2 linked regions of the Homo sapiens genome follow. The protein of the gene in region 2 interacts with the protein of the main gene of each other region in a pairwise test. Each region holds a gene or a part of one and is shown on either strand. Other genes may lie near its edges. The genes, in order: EXOSC10 and FERMT3.

Region 1 (3,810 bases), on a different chromosome or scaffold from region 2:
CACACATTCTAAGTCATAAATTTTCAAATCTAAGGGCATGAAAAATAAATTTCATGCTGGCTTTATTGCTAAAATCCCTATTAAGGACAAAGTGCTACTGTCCTCCAGGCACTGGGCCATCCATCATCTCATTCAATCCCTCTGTAACCCTGGGAAAAAGGTACTGTCATCACCCTCTCTTTAGAGATGAGCAAACAGACTCCGGGAGAGTAAATAACTTGTCCAAGGGACATGGTCAGTAAATGACAGAAGCAGACTCAAGGCTGGGCTTCCGCAAGTCTGCTGTGTTTCTTTATGACACCCCACGGACCTATGGCGTTACAACACATGGAGGTGACACTGGGCATAACACACAGGACGTGCAGTTGTTCAGTGTGACATAACCCGTGGGGGGAAAAGAGGAGAGAAGGCAGAAGCCCCACCTGATTCCCCATTTCCAAAAATAGCAAGCTAACTCAGGGACAGGAACGGGGCTGGGGGACCTCTCGGTTTTGCCTAACAAAAGAGCTCTGCTGCCACACAGAGGAAGCCAGTCGCCCATGTCATCAGAGCAGACGCTTCCTAAAGGGAGGAAGGAGGCTGCGAACAACAGTTCACGTTCTGGCTCTGGGGAACATCTCAAGAGGGTCTAGGGGAGGTGTGCTCTCATTCTTACTCATAATGCTGGTAAAAACAAGCCAGATAAGTAAGATAGAGTGTTTTAAAATTAAAGCTGTCACCTTTAAGAGCCTTAAAGTAACAGACATCTATAAAAATGCATCAAGCTGTATATTTAATATTTGTGTACTTTACTACATATAGATTAAACCTCAATTTAAAAACCGCAAATGAAGATTTGTTTCTTACAAAGTTTCCAAGTGCTTTTCTTTTTCTTTTTTGGCTAGAGTTCGCTCTGTCGCGCAGGTTGGAGCGCAGTGGCGCAACCTCGGCTCACTGCAAGCTCCGCCCCCCAGGTTCAAGCGATTCTCCTGCCTCAGCCCCCCGAGTAGCTGGGACTACAGGCGCCTGCCACGACGCCTGGCTAATTTTTTGTATTTTTAGTAGAGACGGGGTTTCACCATGTTAGCCAGGATGGTTTCGATCTCCTGACCTCATGATCCGCCCGCCTCGGCCTCTCAAAGTGCTGGGATTACAGGCGTGAGCCACCATGCCCAGCCCAAGTGCTTTTAAGAATCTCACTGAAGTTCTGGACCCTTTCCCTAGAAACAATGCTAGAAAATAAAGGGCTTTTGCATTCATTTTCACGGGATTCACAGATGAGATAGGCTTGTCTAAAACAGAAACCTGGTATGAATAATTAAGAAATCCCCTTTTCTTAGAAAGTCTCTTTTAGGGCCAGGCGCAGTAGCTCACGTCTGTAGTCCCAGCACTTTGGGAGGCCAAGGCGGGTGGATCACCTGAGGTCAGGAGTTCGAGACCAGCCTGGTCAACATGGTGAAACCCCATCTCTACAAAAATTAGCCGGGCATGACAGCAGGTGCCTGTAATCCCAGCTACTTGGGAGGCTGAGGCAGAACTGCTTGAACCTGGGAGGTGGAGGTTGCAGTGAGTCAAGATTGTGCCTCTGCACTCCAGCCTGGGTGACAAAGCGAGACTCCATCTCAAAAAAAAAAAAAAAAAAAAAAAGTCTCTTTTAGAACAGGTGACAAGTCCACTTACTTCATAGATTTTGGTTGATGGATCGAACTTCGCTGCCTGAGAGACGGGAGCACGGTGTCCCAGTGAGGGCAGAAACTGGAGGAAGGAAATGGCTGTGTGAAACGCTGCCGGGAACGGAATCTAGAGCCACGGGGCAGAAGCGCTCAGATGGGGGGTTGCTGGTGCCTTGTCAGCGTCTTTGCCAGGACACCAGGGCAGCCGACACACTGGCTTCAGAGGCTTCCTTCCCAGGTAAAAGCATGTACAGCTGTAGGCATCTCTGCATATCCTGTCAGCCCTGACAAAACTACTACTCACCATCCTAAATGGATTTTCAAAGGACTCCATGATGTTCTGGGCTTTTTTCTGTGCAACTGTCAATGGACCCTTTTTACTGTCTTCAGCACTAGGTTCCTGCAGGGACAGACAAAAAACGATCACTAATGACCATGATCATCTGTGACATCAAGATGCAAGCAAGAGAGCAACAGTTAACAGTGATTTTTTTTTTTTTTCTGGAGACAGAGTCTCGCTCTTTTGCCCAGGCTGGAGTACAGTGGTGTGATCTCTGCTCACTGCAACCTCCACCTCCTGTGTTCAAGCGATTCTCCTGCCTCAGCCTCCTGAGTAGCTGGGATTACAGGCACGTGCCACCATGCCCAGCTAATTTTTGTATTTTTAGCAGAGACCAGGTTTCACCATATTGGCCAGGCTGGTCTTGAACTCCTGACCTCAAGTGGTCCACCCGCCTTGGCTTCCCAAAGTGCTGGGATTACAGGTGTGAGCCACCGCACGCACCCGGCCAGTAACAGTGATATTAATACCAATGGCTAAGGCTAATTTTTCATACACTCTCTTATGTATAAGGTGTTGTGTCTGCAACAGCACACAGTAGCATTTCAATATCAATGTGCTGGATCAGTGAATTCTCAGCATGTCCTCATAGCCTATGAGGTGGTATTACTCTCACCATCTTACAGAGGAGGAAACTGAGGCCTACAGAGGTTGTGACAGTCTTTCAGAGGCTTGCAGTGAATACAAGCAGACCAAGGATCTAAACCCACCATGGTCTGGCTCTAGAACATGAGGTCTTAATTGATGCCTGAAATTTATTTTATGTATGTATGTATTATTTTTTTGAGTGGAGTCTTGCTCTGTTGCCCAGGTTGGAGTGCAGTGGTGCCATCTCTGCTCACTGCAACCTCCGCCTCCTGGATTCAAGTGATTCTCCTGCCTCAGCCTCACGAGTAGCTGGGATTACAAGCGTGCGCCACAATGCCCGGCTAATTAAAGACAGGGTTTCACCATGTTGGCCAGGCTGGTCTCAAACTCCTGACCTCAGGTGATATGCCCGCCTTGCCCTCCAAAAGTGCTGGGATTACAGGTGTGAGCCACCACGCCAGGCCTGAAATTTAGTATTACATATCTTTATAGGGAATCATTGAAATTATGCAACAAAATGCTGCTTCCAACTGGGTTCATAAATATGTGCTATCCTTTTGCTTCATCTGTAATTATGCGCCCTTGCAACACAAGAGTGCAGGGAGACCACAGCCTCCTTTACACCAAACAGCACTTCCGTATCAAAGCAGCCCAGAGCTCATGCTAACACGCTTAGCTGCTAAATCATCTTCATGACTCAAATTAGCTCTGAGGTCAGCTAAAGCGCCTAGTATTTTCTCATTAATTGCTAAAGCAAGGCCCAATCTAGATTTATGTAATTAAGTTAAAAACCAAAGTGAAGCCTGGGCGACATGGTGAAACCCCACCTCTACAAAACATACAAAAATTGGCTGGGCATGGTGGCATACACCTGTAGTCCCAGCTACTCGAGAGAAGGCTGGGGCAGAGGGATTGCTTGAGCCCAGGAGGCAGAGGTTGCAGTGAGCCAGGATGGTGCCACTGCACTCCCACCTGGGTGACAGGATGAGATCCTGTCACAAAAAAAAAAAAAAAAAAAAAAAAAAAAAATGCCGGGTGTGGTGGCTCATGCCTGTAATCCCAGCACTTTGGGAGGCTTAGGTGGGTGGATCGCCTGAGGTCAGGCATTCGAGACCAGCCTGGCCAACATAGTGGCCCCATCTCTATTAAAAATATAAAATATTAGCTAAGTATGGTGGCGGGCGCCTGCAATCCCAGCTACTAGGGAAGCTGAGGCAGGAGAATCGCTTG
Region 2 (3,810 bases):
TTCGAGACCAGCCTGACCAATATGGTGAAACTCCATCTCTACTAAAAAAATACAAAAATTAGCCAGGCCCACACCTGTAATCCCAGGAGAATTGCTTGAACCCAGGAGGAAGAGGTTGCAGTGAGCCGAGATTGCACCACTGCACTCTAGCTTGGGCAACAGAGCAAGACTCCATGTCAAAAAAAAAAAAAAAATTAGCCAGGTATAGTACACGCCTATCGTCCCAGCTACTTGGGGAGCTGAGGCTTAAGGATCACATGACCCTGGGAGGTCCAGGCTGCAGTTAGCCGGGATAACACTACTGCCCTCCAGTCTGGACAACAGAGCAAGACTGTGTCTCAAAAAATAAAAATAAATAAATATATAAATAAATAAAGCTTAGGAGAGAGACATCTGAGCTGGAGATGATCAGCTGGGAGAGAGTGTGGAGATGGTATTGAAATCCACAAGACTGGAGATGACTGAGAGAAGGAGAGGAGAGAGCAGAGGCCCAGAGCAGAGCCTGGGGCAGAGCCTGGGGCTCACCAACACCGAGAGGCCATGGAGAGGAGGAGGGAACATCACAGAGCCTGGCAGAGTGGCTTGGGGAGAGGCCACCCCCCAAGCAAGTGTACAGGAGGCTTCAGGAGGAAGATATTCTGGAGGAGTGGTCGGGGTGGTGTCTATGCTGCAAGTAAGTGGTCAAGTAAGAAGCGGGTGGGACATGGCCAGGGAACAGATAGCCTGGAGACGTGGCCACCTCAGCAGGTGCACTTCTCACGTGTGGATGGTGTCAAAATATATAGAATAGCCATGGCCAAGGAGTGAGAGGGAGTCGAACAGCACCCAGAGAAAGCTTGGAAGCAAGAAGTGGGATTCTGCGGAGCAAGCGTTCAGACAACTACGATGTTTTGCAGAGAAAGGGGGCAGAGAGGTGGGGCCTACAGGTAGAAAGAGCAACCTGTGGACTTCTGGGAAGTTTTTGAGATGTGCGCGAAGCACATTGCATGGAGCATTTTGCCTGGAGCATGTTGGTTGCCAATGGAGGAAGGGAGGAAGAGTGAACAGGGCACAGAGGGGCCACCCTGCAAAGCTTCCTTCCTCACCCACCCCCAGGTCCTGCAGTCCCTAATGGTGCCCCCTCCAGGAAGCCTTCCCAGAGCTCCCAGGCTTGGGCCTCTCCCACCTGAGCCCCAGACTTCTCAGGGGCACCCACACACACACTGTCTATGAGGATCTGTGGGTCTTAGCTTCCTCCCTGACAGCTCCCTGGGAAACAGGCACTGAGACTTACTGGTCTTCATCCGCTTCAGCATCTGCCCGGGGCCCAGGACCTGGCCTGATGCTGAGGTGAGTAGATGAGTTTCAGTGGGTGTTTGTGGGGTCAGTAAACAAAGGTGTGGATGGACAAACGGGCAGACGGACAGGCCACTACAAGTCACTAACATCCCAGAGCCCATACCCCAGGCCCTAGGTCTCCACATCTCATGGACCTGAGGCCCGCTTTCTCCCTGCCCCGACCCACCTTGGGATCCAAATCGAAGAAGCTGTAGTACTTGAAGCGCAGCCAGAGTGCGTCCCCGGCCTTGATGCCCTGCTGCATGAGACACCGCGACGAGTCCAGCCACCTGGGCCGCGGCAGAAGCAGCAGTCAGGGCTGCGCCAGGTACGGCCGTGGGGTGGGGAGGGGGGCTGGGCTGGGGGGACAAGCACACACAGAGAAAAGGCCTGGAAACGAAGTGTGGATCTGGGGTGGGCACAGACACGGGACAGGGGGTGGATCCTGGGTGGGGGAGCCCTGACACAGGGGGCGTGGCTCCTGGGTGCACCTGCTGTGGAGCTGGGTCTTGTCTGACAGGGAGCTGGGCCGTGGCAGACGCTGGAGCAGGAGGGGGTCGGGTGGCGGCTGGGGCCGGCTCAGCATGTGGTAGCAGGCCTCAGTCTGGGCGCTGTCCGAGAAGTGAGCTGGCATCCCCCGGAACAGTGCAGGTGCCACGCCTGGAGTGCAGGTTGGGAGTCAACCAGGCCTGTCCCCCAGGGCTGGGACTCACGGGCCGGCCCCTGCCCCCAACCCCCCAGGCCCACCCCCACTTGCACTCACCCCCAGCCAAGACAACCTTGCTCAAGTCATAGAGCTCTTCCTCTGGCTCCTTCTCTTTCTTCTTCTTCTCCTTCTTCTCAGGAGCCCGGAGCAGGGACAGCTCCTCGGGGTGCCGGATGCCTGAGGGGAGCTAGGGTCTCAGCGGGGACTAGGTCCTGCTGCAGCCTCCCCACCTCACCCATGGGTGCTTGGGGCGGGTCACAGCCCTGCAGGCAGGGTGGCAACCCAGACAGCAAGGACAGCGTCAACAGAGCTGGGCCTGGAAACGGGGGAACCTGCCTCTTTGCATCACCCTCGTGGGCCAGGGGAATCAGCCGGGCAACTTACTGAGGAGGCGGCAGATGGCAGCCACAGCCTGGAAGAGGGGCTGGGAGAAGCTGGCACGGAGGCGCAGTGCGCGGCGGTTGGGCAACCGAAGGATGACGGGCCGGTGCTGGGGCCCAAAGAAGAGGCGTGCGTCGGCCAGGATCCCGTACTTGTCCAGTGTCCAGTGGGTCTGCAGCAGCCACTGCCTCTTCTGTTCCCACCAAATAGCATGGTCTGACCAGTCCTGCTTGCGATCTGTGGGGCACGGGGGCACATCTGGGTCCAACCTTCCTCCCTGGTGCCCCCAACACCCAGCACAACCCCAGGATTCAGAAGCCTGGGGCGACCACTCCCCTGCCCTGCCTAAGCCAAGAGTGGGGCAGCCTGGGCGGGCCTGGGGTCTACCCCATGGTAACAGCAGCAGGGCTCTCTGCAGGCAGCCCCTGATTTGGCCTTCTAGGCTTGGCTTCTATATCGCTTCCCAGGGGAGCTCTCCAACCCAGCATCTGAGTGCCCCAATCTTAGCGCCCCATCTCTTGCATTCCAGCCCACTGGGCTCCCTCCACATGACGCCCCCTCTGTCCTCCCATAATCCACGGTTTAACAGCCTCTGTCTTGCATTCTGGGGAGCTCCTGGAGGCAGAGACTACGTCTGTCTCACCGTTGTATGTCCTCAGGGCCTGGACCTGTGCCTGGCCTGGAGCAGTGAGCACTCAATATTTTTAGCTATTAGCTGTGTGACCTTGGACAAGCCACTTAACCTCACTGGGCCTCAGTTTCCCTGTAAGATACAATAACGATCTTACAAACTGGGACACGGAACAAGGCCTCCCATGTGGTAGCTGCAGGGTTTGCAGCAAACTTGTGCACGCACATGACGATCCATGAGTGAGCATTGAATTAGAGATGTGCGTCTGTCCCTTGTCAGCCAGCTGGGAACTGGAGTTACAGTAATGGAAGGCACAGGTCTCCCCGCCTCCTCCCTCCAGGAGCATGAACAGGTGGGAGAGAGCATAGGAAAAAGGCTGCCGGAAAGCTGCTCTGGGCACACAGCCCTTGAGAGTTTGCAAAGCCCTGTTTCCTGAGTTCCTCCCAGGTCCTCCCGGTGAGTTTTCTGATTCCCACTGCATCCCACCCACCTCAGCCAGCCCCCAACCCCACTGCTGCACATGCCGGGCATCACCACTGCTGCCAAACCAAGAGAAGCGCTCGTCCTCCGGCACTTCCCCTCCCAGGCTGGGCCCTTCCCTCCTGGGCACCCCAGTGGGACTCTGGCTGTGTGCCGCCGCATCCCCTTGTCTTGGCTCCTTGCTCTTCTCCTGTCCTCTCTGGCCCCTCTCCGGTCCCTCTCCTGACCGGCCCCTTACCTTGTCCTTTCCCCAGGTTCGGCCTGGGACCCTCTTCTCCTGCCTCGGCCAGGTCCC

Evidence for each region.
Region 1: the proteins of FERMT3 (region 2) and EXOSC10 interact in a two-hybrid assay, tested with the Homo sapiens proteins (one large-scale study listed by BioGRID and IntAct).

The regions. Positions count from the first base shown.
Region 1 is NC_000001.11:11,072,275-11,076,084, forward strand, and holds part of EXOSC10 (exosome complex component 10), read right to left. Parts: intron 2,053-3,810; coding exon 1,957-2,052; intron 1,735-1,956; coding exon 1,660-1,734; intron 1-1,659. UniProt on the Homo sapiens protein: Catalytic component of the RNA exosome complex which has 3'->5' exoribonuclease activity and participates in a multitude of cellular RNA processing and degradation events.
Region 2 is NC_000011.10:64,209,442-64,213,251, reverse strand, and holds part of FERMT3 (fermitin family homolog 3 short isoform), read right to left. Parts: intron 2,642-3,810; coding exon 2,408-2,641; intron 2,201-2,407; coding exon 2,081-2,200; intron 1,978-2,080; coding exon 1,809-1,977; intron 1,608-1,808; coding exon 1,505-1,607; intron 1-1,504. UniProt on the Homo sapiens protein: Plays a central role in cell adhesion in hematopoietic cells. Acts by activating the integrin beta-1-3 (ITGB1, ITGB2 and ITGB3). Required for integrin-mediated platelet adhesion and leukocyte adhesion to endothelial cells.